Linked DNA regions of Homo sapiens. The protein of the gene in region 1 interacts with the protein of each later gene in a pairwise test. Each region holds a gene or a part of one and is shown on either strand. Other genes may lie near its edges. The genes, in order: TUBGCP4 and CHIC2.

Region 1 (3,825 bases):
GTGTGAGAATGGAATAATACATTGATTGTTTTGAGTAAATTTTTCTATGTGGGGCAAGGTATAGTCTTCTTTTAATACATTGCTGGATTTGTATGGAACCATTCTTTGCAGGAGTTCTCACTGTAATGAAATTTGTCCCTGTTTTGTTGGTTGTTTTCATAGCATCTCTGGAAGTTGATGGTAGAAGAATCCGATTTACTGGGTCAGCTGAAGGTAATGGCTTAGCTGTTGTAATTCTTACGGTGATGCTGGTAGGCAGTGACTTGCATTCTCTGATGTTTCCTGAGAGCACTGGTTGCCTATACCCAGACTTCCAGAGTCAACTCATTTGTTCTTATCCAAGTGAGCAAACTATACCTAATGCCACAAATCTACGATAATACAAAGATTTGGGAGTGTACTTTTTTCTGGCATATATATATAATTATGTTGCTATTGAATAAATAATGCCAAATACACACCAGTCATCCTGCTATGCGGAACTAAGTATGCCTCTTTGAAATGCCAAATGCCTGTATCTTTTGTAGCTTGGGCTCAAATTGATGAAATTAGAAATTACTGTATACATGTAATTCCTCAGGACAGTGAGGAGCTCCTGCCTTGCTTTACTGAATTGTAAATTGAAATTCTTTCCTCAGATCATTAAAGACTTTTACCTTCTGGGACGTGGAGAACTGTTTCAGGCCTTCATTGACACAGCTCAACACATGTTGAAAACACCACCCACTGCAGTAACTGAGCATGGTAATTGTCAGTGGCCCTGAGAATGATCAACTGATTGACATTGCAGGGTATTTCTTGGCTGCTGCTGACCCTTTTAAGGCCTGCTCCACATAAGAGCAGCCTGATGAGTTACAGAGCAGTGGCTTCCAGAGATGGAAGGCTCTTGCAGGTAGGCTTCATGCTGGGGTCATTGGGAACAGTGTCTTGGCCTGTGACCCTTCCTGGAAGAGTTGGTTCAGGCCTTCAAACCAGGTATTTTTTCTCATTGGATTATAGCCATATATACTTTATGGGCCATATTGGGACTTAGTGCTGCTTGTAGTTTTGCAGTAGAATTCTTTAGGTGTGAATGATGGAAACTCACCCGAACTAGCCTAGTTAGGAAAGGGAAATGGATTTGCTATTGTATCTAAAACCCCAGTGGGAAAACTTCGATTCATTCTCTCTCTCTCTCATTCACTCATTCACCACATCTTGTTTGTGTCTCTTGTGAACACTTTGATGACCTTCTGGAAACATGATCACAGCATCTCCCAGGAATATGCCTCACAGTGTCCTCTACGGAAGGAACTGAACCCAGTCCCTCTTGTTGCAAGTTAGAGAATTCTAGGGAATTATCTAGGTTTTGATTGGCCCAGCCCACATCACATCCCTATCCCTGTATCAGTCAAAGAGGTCAGACACTAGGCTATGCCTAGTTCAGTGAAGAGTCTACCCCTTGACCCACTGATGTCCATTCCCATTCATACTGCATGAGTAGAGTTGGGTAAGGATCCAAAAAAAGAAACTGTGAGAAAGAAAATACATACACACAGGCTGATCATTTTTCTAACTCAGTAAAACCATAGATGTCCACTGTACTTATATAGTACAAATATAAGTACTTGTGGTTGCAAATATCAGAAAATCCAATTCAAACTCACTTAAGCAAAGCAAAAGGAAAGAAATAATGTATTGATTCTCATAACTGAAAAGCTCAGACGTATGATGGTTTTCGGCTAAGTTTGATCCAGTGACAGGTGTGGCACCTTTAGGACTTGGTCTCTTTCCATCTTCTACCTCTTTCTTCTCAGACAGGCCTGCTCTGTATGGTAGCAAGATAGTCTCTAGCCAAGTTTACATCCTACTAAGCCCCTGTTTATCTTGAAAAAAGAGCTGGACTCTTTTAGAGTCTGAATAGAGCCTCTGGATTGGCCTGGCTTGGTCATGTTAATATCCCTAAACAATATAGCATAACAAAGTAGAGTATTACATTCCATTTGATCATGCCTACATCACCCAGCTACCCCTAGAATCAGGTGTTGTCTAGCACTAACCCACTGGAAATATGTGAACTGTACTGAATAGGGATGATTCTCCAAGGAAAATCAAGAGGCAGTTTGTCAGCAAGAAGAGAAGGATGGATGGGTGTTAGACAAATGAAACAGATGTCCACTGTGTCCTGCTGTTAGCATTGAGCATGTTGGGGGAGAAGTGGAAAGCTGGAGGAGTCTGGGTTTGTTATGTAGCCAAGCGTCCCTGTCAGCCTGCGTGTTCTTTCTTGCAGATGTGAATGTGGCCTTTCAACAGTCAGCACACAAGGTATTGCTAGATGATGACAACCTTCTCCCTCTGTTGCACTTGACAATCGAGTATCACGGAAAGGAGCACAAAGGTTTGCCATTCCTCCCTGCCACCTTAGAGTTCCTGCTGGTCATCATCCATTTTCCCATCTCTGCTTCCATCCCCCGCCACAGAAACCATATGATTTTGGATCTTAGAAATCAGCTAGTACAGTACTATAATTCTATAGAGAAGAAAAGGAAAGTCCAGAAGTCCAGAGAGGCTAAGTGAGATGCCCAGGCCATGTTTTGGGGGAGTTGGTTTTTTTGGTGTTTTTTTTTGTCATGCTGCTGGAATGGTGCCTGTTTATTTCCAGCCCCCAGATTTTAAGGCTGAGGAAAGAATCTCTAGAAGACCTCCCAAGAGAACCTCACATAGAAGTTTCCTTGCCCCCTTCTTAGTGTCCCCTGTAAGCTTCTGACATCGCAGACTCCATTGAGCTCTGTTGCTTTTCTTTTGGAGACAGAGTCTCACTCTGTTGACCAGGCTGGAGTGCAGTGGCACAATCTTGGCTCACTACAACCTCTGCCTTCCAGGTTCAAACAATTCTCATGCCTCAGCCCCCCTGAGTAGCTGGGACTACAAGTGCGTGCCACCATGCCCAGCTAATTTATGTATTTTTAGTAGAGATGGGGTTTCACTGTATTGCCCAGACTGGTCTTGAACTCCTGTGAGCTCTAGTTTCATTAATGTTATTCACTTGTTGAGTCTCTGGTTCTAGATTAACCAAGTTGTTATCTTTTCTTTTTTTCTTTTCTTTTATCACAGCAGATGCTACTCAGGCAAGAGAAGGGCCTTCTCGGGAAACTTCTCCCCGGGAAGCCCCTGCATCTGGCTGGGCAGCCCTAGGTCTTTCCTACAAAGTACAGTGGCCACTACATATTCTCTTCACCCCAGCTGTCCTGGAAAAGTGAGTATTTCTGAGTTTCTCACAGGTAAATATGACCCACCTTACTTGTAAGGGAAGAAACTAGCAGGAACAGAATTAGTGGGAAAGCAAGGTGTGGTGGCACACACCTGTAATCCCAGCTAGTCCAGAGCCTGAGCAGGAGGATCCCTTAAGCCCAGGATTTCAAATCCATCCTGGGCAACATAGTAAGACCCCCATCTCATAAAAAAAAAAAAAAAAATTAATGGGAGCAAGAGAGCCACCCAACTAGTTTTTAACAATCTGTAAATCAAAAATTGTAAACCCTTATGCCTTCAGGGGCTAGACTGATCACATTAATAAGTGAAGCCACAGATATGAGACACGGAGTTGGAATCAGTGGGAGGGCATATCTACTTCAAACCATCATTTTTTTAAATTGCCAAATAATAAGCAGTTTGTTGGCTGCCAGTTTGTGAGCTCTGGAAAATAAGGTCTTAGGCACCATGTCGAGATAATGGCCCTTGATGATTCCATCACACCTGACAAGGTCTCTCCCTCACTTTTGTAATATTTTTTGTTGATTTACTTGGGAAAGTCCTCCAGCCTACATGTCTGCTATGGATGTTAGC
Region 2 (3,825 bases), on another chromosome or scaffold:
TATAGTTCTATCTGGAATTCATAGCATTGGGATAACTTTTATGTTTTCCTTTCCAAAGTAAATTTAGAAATGCATGAAAAAATTAATACCTCAGTTTTAAGCTTAGTGTTTGTGTTATAAATGTAGTAAATATTTTTTTCACTAAATTCTTTACATCTCCTATCCATCCCTCTCCCCAAAATATATACATAAACCCTCTATCTAAGATGAAAATACAAGAGTAGTCTCCTCACCTCAAAATGAGTTACTCAAATGTGTTATGATTATAAAGAAGTATCAAGTGTCTTTCTCATCATCATACATTAACATGTTTGATGTAGTAAAGATAAAATCTACATTATTTGGTTCATTGAATAAAGCTAGTCTAAGACATTTTAAAAATATTTTTTATGTTCAAGGCTAGAAATAGGATTTGACTGTGGGATAATGAAAGAACAGGAAAATGCTAACAGACAAAAATGATTTTATGATAATTTACAACTAAACACTGTTTTAATCAATATTTTACACATACACACGCACACATCTATGATGGCTATATTGTTTTAAAGAATAGACAAAATTCCTCAGAAATGTTGTAACAGGTACTTCACAAAGGCTCTGAGTTTTATTTTCAACTATTAACTTTTCCTTAGATCTTTTCTTTTAAAGTAATAACCTGGCCATATTTAAAATAAAATATCCAAGCTCAAAAGAGAATTAAAATTCTTAATTTTCTAGAGTATTCTGAAATTTTCAAAAGGAGAAAAACTGTTCAAGTAAATCATGGAGTCAGTAAATTAAATCCCATGCTGAGTAAGTTCTAAAATTCATTGTATATATATGCCAAATTAGATATTTTTTAACAAGTAAACACAAGATGATCAACATCTCATCTCCTGCTTACTTTTAATTTTTACAAAGCAGTATTCTAATAACACTTTAAAAGAGATTCTTTAAAGGGCACTGAGGTACGGGCAGTTAAAATCTATAAAGGGTAAAGGTTTCTTAAGCTCCAATGGCTTGGCTGAAAGGTTTTCTTCCATACTTGGAAACTTGATTAGCATTATATAAAAAAGCCATATCTGACTTGCTGCGTAACCAAAGTTGTGGTTATTCTTTATACAGCATCTAAAATTTCACACTCCATCAACACATGTTCAGGCTATTTTATCTTGGCAATTAATTTATTATTTTTCAGAACACAGTGAAGCCTTGTTTTCAAGTCATTCATAACTTTATAAATCAGTCTTGCACATGAAACCATGCATCTGTGAACCGTAGAAAATCCTTGCACTCAGGAGATTAAGCTCCTGACACCTTTGCTGATTAATAATCATGGAAAGAATAAGATCAGAAGCAAAATAAATGATCATTTAATAGAGAAACTCACAAAACAGCCCTTTAACTTACATATTCCATCATGTTATTCGTTTCACATTTCCTTTTGCTCAGTCTCCAATGCAAGCACAGCTAGACAAGTAGGAAAGTAAAAGAAGAAAAATGAGCTCTATTTTATTGCAGCACACAGACTAACCCATTTGTCCACCTTTCATATTTTTAGTTCAACAAAAGCATCTGTTTCCATACTGTGCAATTCAGACCCCAACAGTACGAAGCTGCTCCCTGTGGTACTCACCTTGTGGTATAACCTATTGTTTTCCCATTCTAATAACTTCTCAATCGATCTTCGTGTCTGGAAGACAAATGAGAAAAAAGTTTACTCTTGACTGGTTTTAGAAAACTTTGTTTTGCAGCTGCTTTTTCTGTGAAAAGGGGAGAGGTATAAGACAGTGACTGAGTATAGTGTGGTGTGCATCACTATCGATGTTCTAAGCACTAAATGGTAACCTGAACACAAAAGAGTACTCTTTCTTAAAAAAGATATGCCTTTATTTTTATCATACGAATCTTTTTTTACTAGCCTCTGATTTAAAACTATCAAGGTTTAAAAAGCTAATGTCATCTGCCAAATAAAATTAAATTCCCACTTCTTTCAAAAATGTTTCCAATACTTAAATAGTAACGGAAGTTCCTTAATACATATTTTAAAACAAAAGTAAATATTAGTTAACAAAATGCAAATGGCCTTTCAGTAAGTTCCAAAACAAAAAATTGGAATATTAAAAAAATCAATGAGTTATAAAATCAAATTAATTTTCACATCATGCTTAAAATAATGCCCATATTTAAAAGCCAGCTTACTGATTATTCTACCAATAGATTTTTTGAACAGAGCCAAAATTTTATTTAAACCAACATAAAAGTGTCATCTGATAGTAAAATCAAACTCTTAATTCAATACTACTGTTTCAGGAATCAACTGAGAATTTACTTCAGTTGATTTTTGCAAGATATGCTATGCTGCATGAAATGTTTCTTGCTTGAGAATATGAATAAAAGAGGGTAATTCATGGTGCCAGGTGTTAGGATGAGACTGACACAGCTGCAGGTGCAAAAATGACAGTGTTGCCACCAGGATCAACTTGCAACTTGGTTCAGCTGCACTTTTCTTGCAAGAGAAAGAAAAAAACATCTTACCACTATTAATGTGGTATAAAGAAGTACTAGTAATCAAATATGAAAATTTGCGTGTCAAGCAAGGATTAGCTAGGTGAAAAACTGTTAGGATCAAGCTGGGTTTGAACAGTTTAATGTTACATAATAAAATTTTAATATGTATTTAAAGTATCTACTTTAAATAGTTACATTACCTTTTAGCATATTAAACATGCTAAAGACACACCAAAGTCACATAGATGCCAATTATAATTCATAACTACCAATGAATTACGACTACTGCCTTACATTTTCCAAGCTTATGTCATAAAAATCGGAAAATCAACTACTTCCCTGGGTAATAATATGCCAATGACTAATTTATTACATTACTTTTTCTGAAGAGTCTTTTTGGCAAGAATTTTAAAGAAAAAAAAGTGCCCTTGTTAACAATGATCAGCAGACCTCACTTGTTTCTTTGTAAAGATAGCCTTTTAGAGGCAGCTCTCCTTTTAAATGAAAATAGGGCAGCAGTTATGGTCACACTTTTTGTTAATTTAGTTGCCAGTCAGCCCCAAATCAAAAGAAAATAAGGCTGCAGAGTGTAATTAACATTCAGTTCGGTCGTTTTGTCCCTTGTCTAGCCCCCAAGCTTTGTTAAAATTGCCATCTGAATGCTGAAGGCTGTAGGGAAATCGATTTGATTCTAATCGCACCATGAAAAGAACATGATCTAACTGCTTTCAGCCCTCCGTAAATCTGTACTAGGTCTTTAGCACAATGCAACTTCCAATTTAAAAAGCACTGAATGTCTCGTCAATGACTTTGTGAAGAAAAAAGAACAAGGAGCAGACATAAAAATTCCAATAGTTGTTTAAGCATTAAAGTTCATTTGCATCACAGCGAACCTGAAAAGGGCTGACCTCTCAAACCGCCTCTCAGGTCTATGAAGTTGTAGCCTTGACAAGCTCACATTGACAGAGCTCATTGACTCTGAAAGGCTACTCTATCAATGGTGAAAAATGGCAATAGGTTCTACTCTGAGCAGGCATCTGCCTGCCCACCCGCTGCTAAACCAATGGCAAAACCGATTCAAAACCTGAATCTACCTTGTAATCTTTCTTTCTAGGGCCTTTTAATAATAGATTAAGATTACTATACAATTTGAGGTTTTACTTTTACTGATGATTTTGGGGGTGGGTGGATGATGAAAGAACTAGAGCAGAACAAGTTTTCCAAGCCCACTGTTTTATATTAATGTATAAAATAGTACCCAAAAGCTTAATACTACATTCTGCAAATACTTATTACTTAAAGAAAAAAATGTAGTTACCACCATCATTTCAT

Evidence for each region.
Region 2: the proteins of TUBGCP4 (region 1) and CHIC2 interact in a two-hybrid assay, tested with the Homo sapiens proteins (one large-scale study listed by BioGRID and IntAct).

Annotation. Positions count from the first base shown.
Region 1 is NC_000015.10:43,394,945-43,398,769, forward strand, and holds part of TUBGCP4 (gamma-tubulin complex component 4), read left to right. Parts: intron 1-162; coding exon 163-213; intron 214-638; coding exon 639-744; intron 745-2,269; coding exon 2,270-2,377; intron 2,378-3,093; coding exon of another isoform or gene 3,094-3,096; coding exon 3,097-3,235; intron 3,236-3,825. UniProt on the Homo sapiens protein: Component of the gamma-tubulin ring complex (gTuRC) which mediates microtubule nucleation.
Region 2 is NC_000004.12:54,012,445-54,016,269, forward strand, and holds part of CHIC2 (cysteine-rich hydrophobic domain-containing protein 2), read right to left. Parts: intron 1,676-3,825; coding exon 1,619-1,675; intron 1,453-1,618; coding exon 1,393-1,452; intron 1-1,392.